Homo sapiens: one gene and its partner. The protein of the gene in region 2 purifies or fractionates together with the protein of the main gene of each other region. This does not show direct contact. Each region holds a gene or a part of one and is shown on either strand. Other genes may lie near its edges.

Region 1 (3,823 bases), on a different chromosome or scaffold from region 2:
AGGCATGCGCCACCACACCTGGCTAATTTTTTTGTATTCTTAGTAGAGATGGGGTTTCACCATGTTGGCCAGGCTTGTCTCGAACTCCTGACCTCAGGTGATTCAGCCGCCTTGGCCTCTGCTGGGATTTCAGCCGAGAGCCACCGTGCCTGGCCCCACTGATTTATGTTTCTATTTTTTCATGAATACTACAGTGTATTAAGTACTATAGCTCTAAAATACATCTTAATATCAGGTAGCATGTTCACTTATATTCTTCTTTTTCAAGATGTTTAAGCTATTCTAGGGCTTGTGCCTTTCCATATGAATTTTTATTATTTATTTATTGATTGAGATGGAGTCTTGGTCTTGTCGCCTAGGCTGGGCCCAAGCGATTCTTCTGCCTCAGCCTCCTAAATACCTGCGATTACAGGCGCCCGCCACCATGCCTGGCTAATTTTTGTATTTTTTAGTAGGAACAGGGTTTCACCATGTTGGCCAGCCTGGTCTCGAACTCCTGACCTCCGGTGATCCACCCGCCTTGGCCTCCCAAAGTGCTGGGATTACAAGTGTGAGCCACCGTGCCCGGCCCCTCCATGTAAATTTTAAAAGAAGCTCCATGTCTATACAAAAATGTTGCTAACATTTTGATAAGAACTACATAAACCTATAGACCAGTTTAGGGTGAACTGACATCTTTACTATACTGTCCTGCAATCCATGAACACGGTATGTCTGTCCATTTCTTTAGGTCCTCTTTGACTTCCTTCATAATCATTTTACTATTTTTAGCACACAGAGCCTATACATGTCTTGTTAAATTTATACCCAAGCATCACATTTTCTCTAGGGTGACTGTAAGTAGTACTGTAGTTTTTTGGTTTTTTTTTAGACGGAATTTTTGCTCTCTTGCCCAAGCTGGAGTGCAATGGTGCGATCTCAGCTCACTGCAACCTCTGCCTCCTGGGTTCAAGCGATTCTCCCACCTCAGCCTCTTGAGTAACAGGGATTACAGGTGACTGCCACCAAGCCCGGCTAATTTGTGTATTTTTATAGAGACAGGGTTTCAGCAAGTCAGCCAGACTGGTCTCGAACTCCTGACCTCAGGTGATCCGCCCGCCTTGGATTCTCAAAGTGCTGGGATTACAGGTGTGAGCCACTGCGCCCAGCTAAGTAGTTTTGTGTTTTTAACTTTGGTTTCCACATGTTCATTGTTGGCACATAAAAATGTGATTAAGTTTTGTGTGTTGCTCTCATATCCCGTAACATGGCTGAACTCACTCTTTAGTGAGTTGTCACCACTTCTTATTATAACCATTTTAATAAAAGTGTAGTGACAGTTCGTTGTGGTTTCAGTTTGCTAGAATCTTCTGATCTATGCTTTAGATTTATAGCTGATTTCTACCTGGATCTCATGCTTTCTTTATAAATGAATTCAATTCAGTTCATTAATTCAATGATCCACCTTTCCCAAACGTTAACGCCCTTTTCAACTATCTTCTTCCTGTCACTTGTTCGACCATCTGGTGAGCTTCTTGAACAAGAAACTGCAAATCAACCTGGAAAAGCTCCCTTATTCTCTTCCCCTACACACATGACTCATGCTGTTTCATCTCCCTTAGGAATCAGACTCAGATTTTTTGATACAACAGTATCAAAAATTATAAAATAAATTTGAATTTTATGTATCGTTTTATACCTACAAAATAAGAAAACAAAAATGGTGATACTTTTAGTAAAAGTTCGTCATGAACTGCTCCCTGTTAGCTCACGGCCCTTTGAAAAAGCAAGAGGATAACACAGAGCAAGAGCCATAAAGGCTTCATATCATTTGACCAAGTAATCTCATGTTTCAAACTTACTCTAATGAAATTTTTAAGAAGAAACAAGAGTCAAGGCTGGGTGTGATGGCTCATGCCTGTAATCCCAGCACTTCGGGAGGCTTGAGGTGGGAAGATCACTTGAGCTCAGGAGTTCAAGAACAGCCTGGGTAACACAGTGAGACTTCATCTCTACTAAAAATCAAAAAATTAACAGGGTGTGGTGGTGCACGGCTGTCGTCCCAGCTACTCAAGAGCTTGAGATGGGAGCGGGCCCGGGCACGGTGGCTCACGCCTGTAATCCCAGCACTTTGGGAGGCTGAGGCGGGCGGATCACGAGGTCAGGAGATCGAGACCATCCTGGCTAATGTGGTGAAACCCTGTCTCAACTAAAAGTACAAAAAATTAGCCGGGTGTGGTGGCTGGTACCTGTAGTCCCAGCTACTCGGGATACTGAGGCAGGAGAATGGCGTGAACCTGGGAGGCGGAGCTTGCAGTGAGCTGAGATGGCACCACTGCACTCCAGCCTGGGTGACAGAGTGAGACTCTGTCTCAAAAAAAAGAGGTTGAGTTGGGAGGATCGCTTGAGCCCAGGAAGTCGAGGCTGTAGTGAACTGAGATCATGCCATCTCACTCCAGCCTGGGCAACAAAGTGAGACCTTGTCTCAAAAAAAAAAAAAAAATACACACACACACACACACACACACACACACACACACACACACAGACACATATATATATAAAATAAAAAATTAAAATTAAAAAAGAAACAAGGGTCATCTACAGCAAAGACATTTACTACTGTTATCTGTAATAGTGGAATAATGGGGTTGTTTCTAAACAATAATTTTCTGTTATAGATGTAGTGTGTTCCCACGCTCCAGGTGAGAGGTGAAGGTGGCTAGATTAGAAATAGGCAGTGGACATGGTAAACAGTAGCTTCATAATGGGTAGAGTTTGAAGGTTGAGCCAACTATACAAAGCATGTAGTGGGTACCAAATAAATACTTGTTTAACAAGAATAAAAACCATTCATTCATCCTATTGGTTTCATTTTATGGTTTCCAAACATAATAAATATATATCAAATATATATCTCTTCAACTCTTAAAGCAAAAAGTCTTTAGCATTTTATTCTCTCTTGACTTCCCCCTGCTGCTTGGTGTCCCTCTGAGTCTTGTCTTAGTGAGGGTCCAGGGATCACCAGGTGTCCTCACAGTGGCCATTCTGACTCCAATCCCAAACCCACAGGAGAAGGGATGTCTATTTCCTCTTCCAAATCCGTCATTTACCATTGGAACCACACTAGGGGGCAGTAGTTGAGAAAAGGTCACAAGAGGGGAGAGAGAAGTAGGTGAGATACCTGACTTGTGGCAAGAGTCCAACTCTCCCCCTTTCAGGGATACCAGTTGAGGCCTTCCTGTCTCATCGCTGGTGGAAAAGAAGGTGAGGTCCCTTCGACCCGGAACAGAAATGAGTACCAATGGCTAGATGTCTTCCAAGGCAATACAAGAAGTGAGTTCAAAATGGAATGGTTTTTTTTTTAATTTTTGAGAAGGAGTCTTGTTCTGTCACCCAGGCTGAAGGTGCGATCTCAGCTTACTGCAAGCTCCACTTCCCGGGTTCACGCCATTCTCCTGCCTCAGCCTCCCGAGTAGCTGGGACTACAGGCACCCGCCACCACACCCAGCTAATTTTTTGTATTTTTAGTAGAGACGGGGTTTCACCGTGTTAGCCAGGATGGTCTCAATCTCCTGACCTTGTGATCCGCCCGCCTCGGCTTCCCAAAGCGATGGGGTTACAGGCAGTGAGCCACTATGCCCAGCCAGAATGGTTTTATAAAGAGCGTATGAGGGCATTAACATAGACAGAGATTGTTTATGTGTTCATTACATTGGGAACTGCCTCTATTTTCAGCCTGAGTTAACATTATAAACCTTACCCCTTACATGCATTCATTCAACATATATTTGTTGACTGCCTATGAGGAAGGTACAAGGATGAATAAGACAGAATGTCTGTG
Region 2 (2,713 bases):
TCTTTCTATTTTCAGCAGAGACGGGGTTTCACCATGTTGGCCAGGCTGGTCTTGAACTCCTGACCTCAGGCGATCCGCCCGCCTCAGCCTCCCAAAGGGCTGGCATTACAGGCGTGAGCCACTGTGCCTGGCCTATTTTTTATTTTATTTCATTTTATCATTTTATTTTACTTTATTATTTTATTTCATTTTGAGACAGAGTCTTGCTCTGTTGCCCAGGCTGGAGTGCAGTAGCATGACCTTGACTCGCTGTAACCTCCGCTCCCCAGGATCAAGTGATTCTCCTGCCTCAGCCTCCCGAGTAGCTGGGGCTACAGGCGCCCGCCACCACGCCCGACTAATTTTTTGTATTTTTAGTAGAGACAGGGTTTCACCATGTTGGCCAGGCTGGTCTCGAACTCCTGACTTCAGGCAACCTGCCCGCCTCGGCCTCCCAAAGTACTGGGATTACAGGTGTGGGCCACCGTGCCCGGCCCCATTTTATTTTATTTTGAGGCAGGGTCTTGCTGTGTCTCCCAGGCTGGAGCACGATCTTTAGCTCACTGCAGCCTCCACCTGACTTGAACTGCTGGGTTCCAGCCATCCTCCCACCTCAGCCTCGCAAGTAGCTGGGGCTACAGTCATATGCACTGCCACATCGAGCTACGAAACCTACACTTAAAACAGGGTGAATTACAAATAAAAAATATTTCGGTTGGGCGCGGTGGCTCATGCCTGTAATCCCAGCACTCTGGGAGGCCGAGGCGGGCGGATCACAAGGTCAGGAGATCGAGACCATCCTGGCTCACACGGTGAAATCCCATCTCTACTAAAAATACAAAAAAAAAATTAGCCGGGCGTGGTGGCGGCTGCCTGTAGTCCCAGCTACTCAGGAGGCTGAGGCAGGAGAACGGCGTGAACCCGGGAGGCGGAGCTTGCAGTGAGCTGAGATCGCGCCACTGCGCTCCAGCCTGGGTGACAGAGCGAAGCTCTGTCTCAAAAAAAAAAAAAAAAAAAAGAAAGAAAAAAAAAGAAAAAATATTTTAAACGGCCACTGGCAGCCAGGCTCAATGGCACATGCCTGTCATTCCAGCACTTTTGGAGGCAGAGGCAGGAGGATCACCTGAGCCCTAGAGTTTTGAGGCCAGACTGAGCAACACAGCGAGACCCCATCTCTAAAAAAAAAAAAATGGCCACAGGTACCTGAAAGGGGGACTCAGGGGGCCACAGCCAAGAGAGCTCAAGTCTCCTCACTCTGCTGCCAACACAGGTGACCCTGGTTCACCCCCCTCTCCACCTGCTCATGTCATGGTGGTAAGTGGGTCGGGGCAGGAGGCATCTCCTCCCCCTGGCTGGGGTCATGTCTTGCTCCCTGGTGGCTGTCCCTCAGGCACTCGTGGCCCCCTCCTCCTGGTACCCCCTTCTCACCATCTCTCCCCCACCCCTTCCTTTATAGCAGGGAGCTGCAGCAGACTGCTTGGAGACTAGGAAGAAAGGTGGCCACCGAGTCTGGCATAGCAGCCGGGGCTGTCCTCTACCTTGTCTCTGAAGGCTTCAGGGCCTTTGATTTCTGGGAAAGCTCCCACCTTCTTTCCAGATCCCTCTTTGCGTGGAACTTCTGCGCAAATGAATAAGGGCTACCCACTTCTTGGCAGACCAGCCCTGGCTCTGTGAAGAGGCTCCTGGGGAAAAGAGTGTGGAGTCTCTTCCACTAGGCAGGCAGAACCCCACGTGGCACGTGGCTGGGCAAGGCCATCTGAATGGAAACTGCAGATACAGCACTGCCTTAGACCATCCTGCACGCACCCGCGCTCACCACACACACACGTCGTGAATATAAACATCCATATACTGGTACAGGTGTGAGTGCTTCTCTGGCCCCTGCTCTGCATGCTAATTGTCTCTTCTGCACCTTCCGGGTGGATGCGAGCTCTGCCCGGCAGATGCCCTTGTGCAGGGTAAGGGGGCCAAGCAGTGGGGCCCTGGTGACCCTAAGGGGGCTGGAAGAACCGTGCCCAGAGCCTAGCCTTCTTTGAACTCCTCTGTGAGAATTTAGTAGGCATCTGGGCTTTGAAACTCTGTTGAGTTTCCAGCACTCCCGAGCAGCAGCAACTGAGCCCACATAGCAAGCGTGAGCACGCACAGAGAAACAGCACAGCCACACACTCGCTCTTACCCCCACCACACAGCAAGTGTGAGCACACACACACAGCCACACACTCGCTCTTACCCCCACCACACAGCAAGTGTGAGCACATACAGCCACACTCTTACCCCCACATAGCAAGTGCGAGCACACACAGCCACACACTCGCTCTTACCCCCACCACACAGCAAGTGTGAGCACACACAGCCACACACTCACTCTTACCCCCACCACACAGCAAGTGTGAGCACATACAGCCACACTCTTACCCCCACACAGCAAGTGTGAGCACAAACAGCCACACTCTCGCTCTAACCCCACATAGGTCAGTGCACTTCATTTGCTGGTCTGCTTCACGTTTTAAAAATGCTGCTTCCTGGCCAGGAGCGGTGTCATGCCTGTAATCCCAGCACTTTGGGAGGCCGAGGTGGGCGGATCATGAGGTCAGGAGTTCAAGACCAGCCTGGCCAACATGGTGAAAACCTGTCTCTACTAAAAATACAAAAATTAGCCAGGAGTGATGGCAGGCTCCCGTAGTCCCAGCTACTCGGGAAGCCGAGGCAGGAGAATGTGTGAACCCAGGAGGCG

The links.
Region 1: the proteins of SPMAP2 (region 2) and TTL purify together in Homo sapiens (affinity purification with mass spectrometry; one large-scale study listed by BioGRID and IntAct). This does not show direct contact.

What each region holds. Positions count from the first base shown.
Region 1 is NC_000002.12:112,495,369-112,499,191, reverse strand, and holds part of TTL (tubulin--tyrosine ligase), read right to left. Parts: intron 1-3,823. UniProt on the Homo sapiens protein: Catalyzes the post-translational addition of a tyrosine to the C-terminal end of detyrosinated alpha-tubulin.
Region 2 is NC_000019.10:363,360-366,072, forward strand, and holds part of SPMAP2 (sperm microtubule associated protein 2), read right to left. Parts: intron 1,662-2,713; coding exon of another isoform or gene 1,566-1,661; intron 1-1,565. UniProt on the Homo sapiens protein: May be involved (but not essential) in spermatogenesis.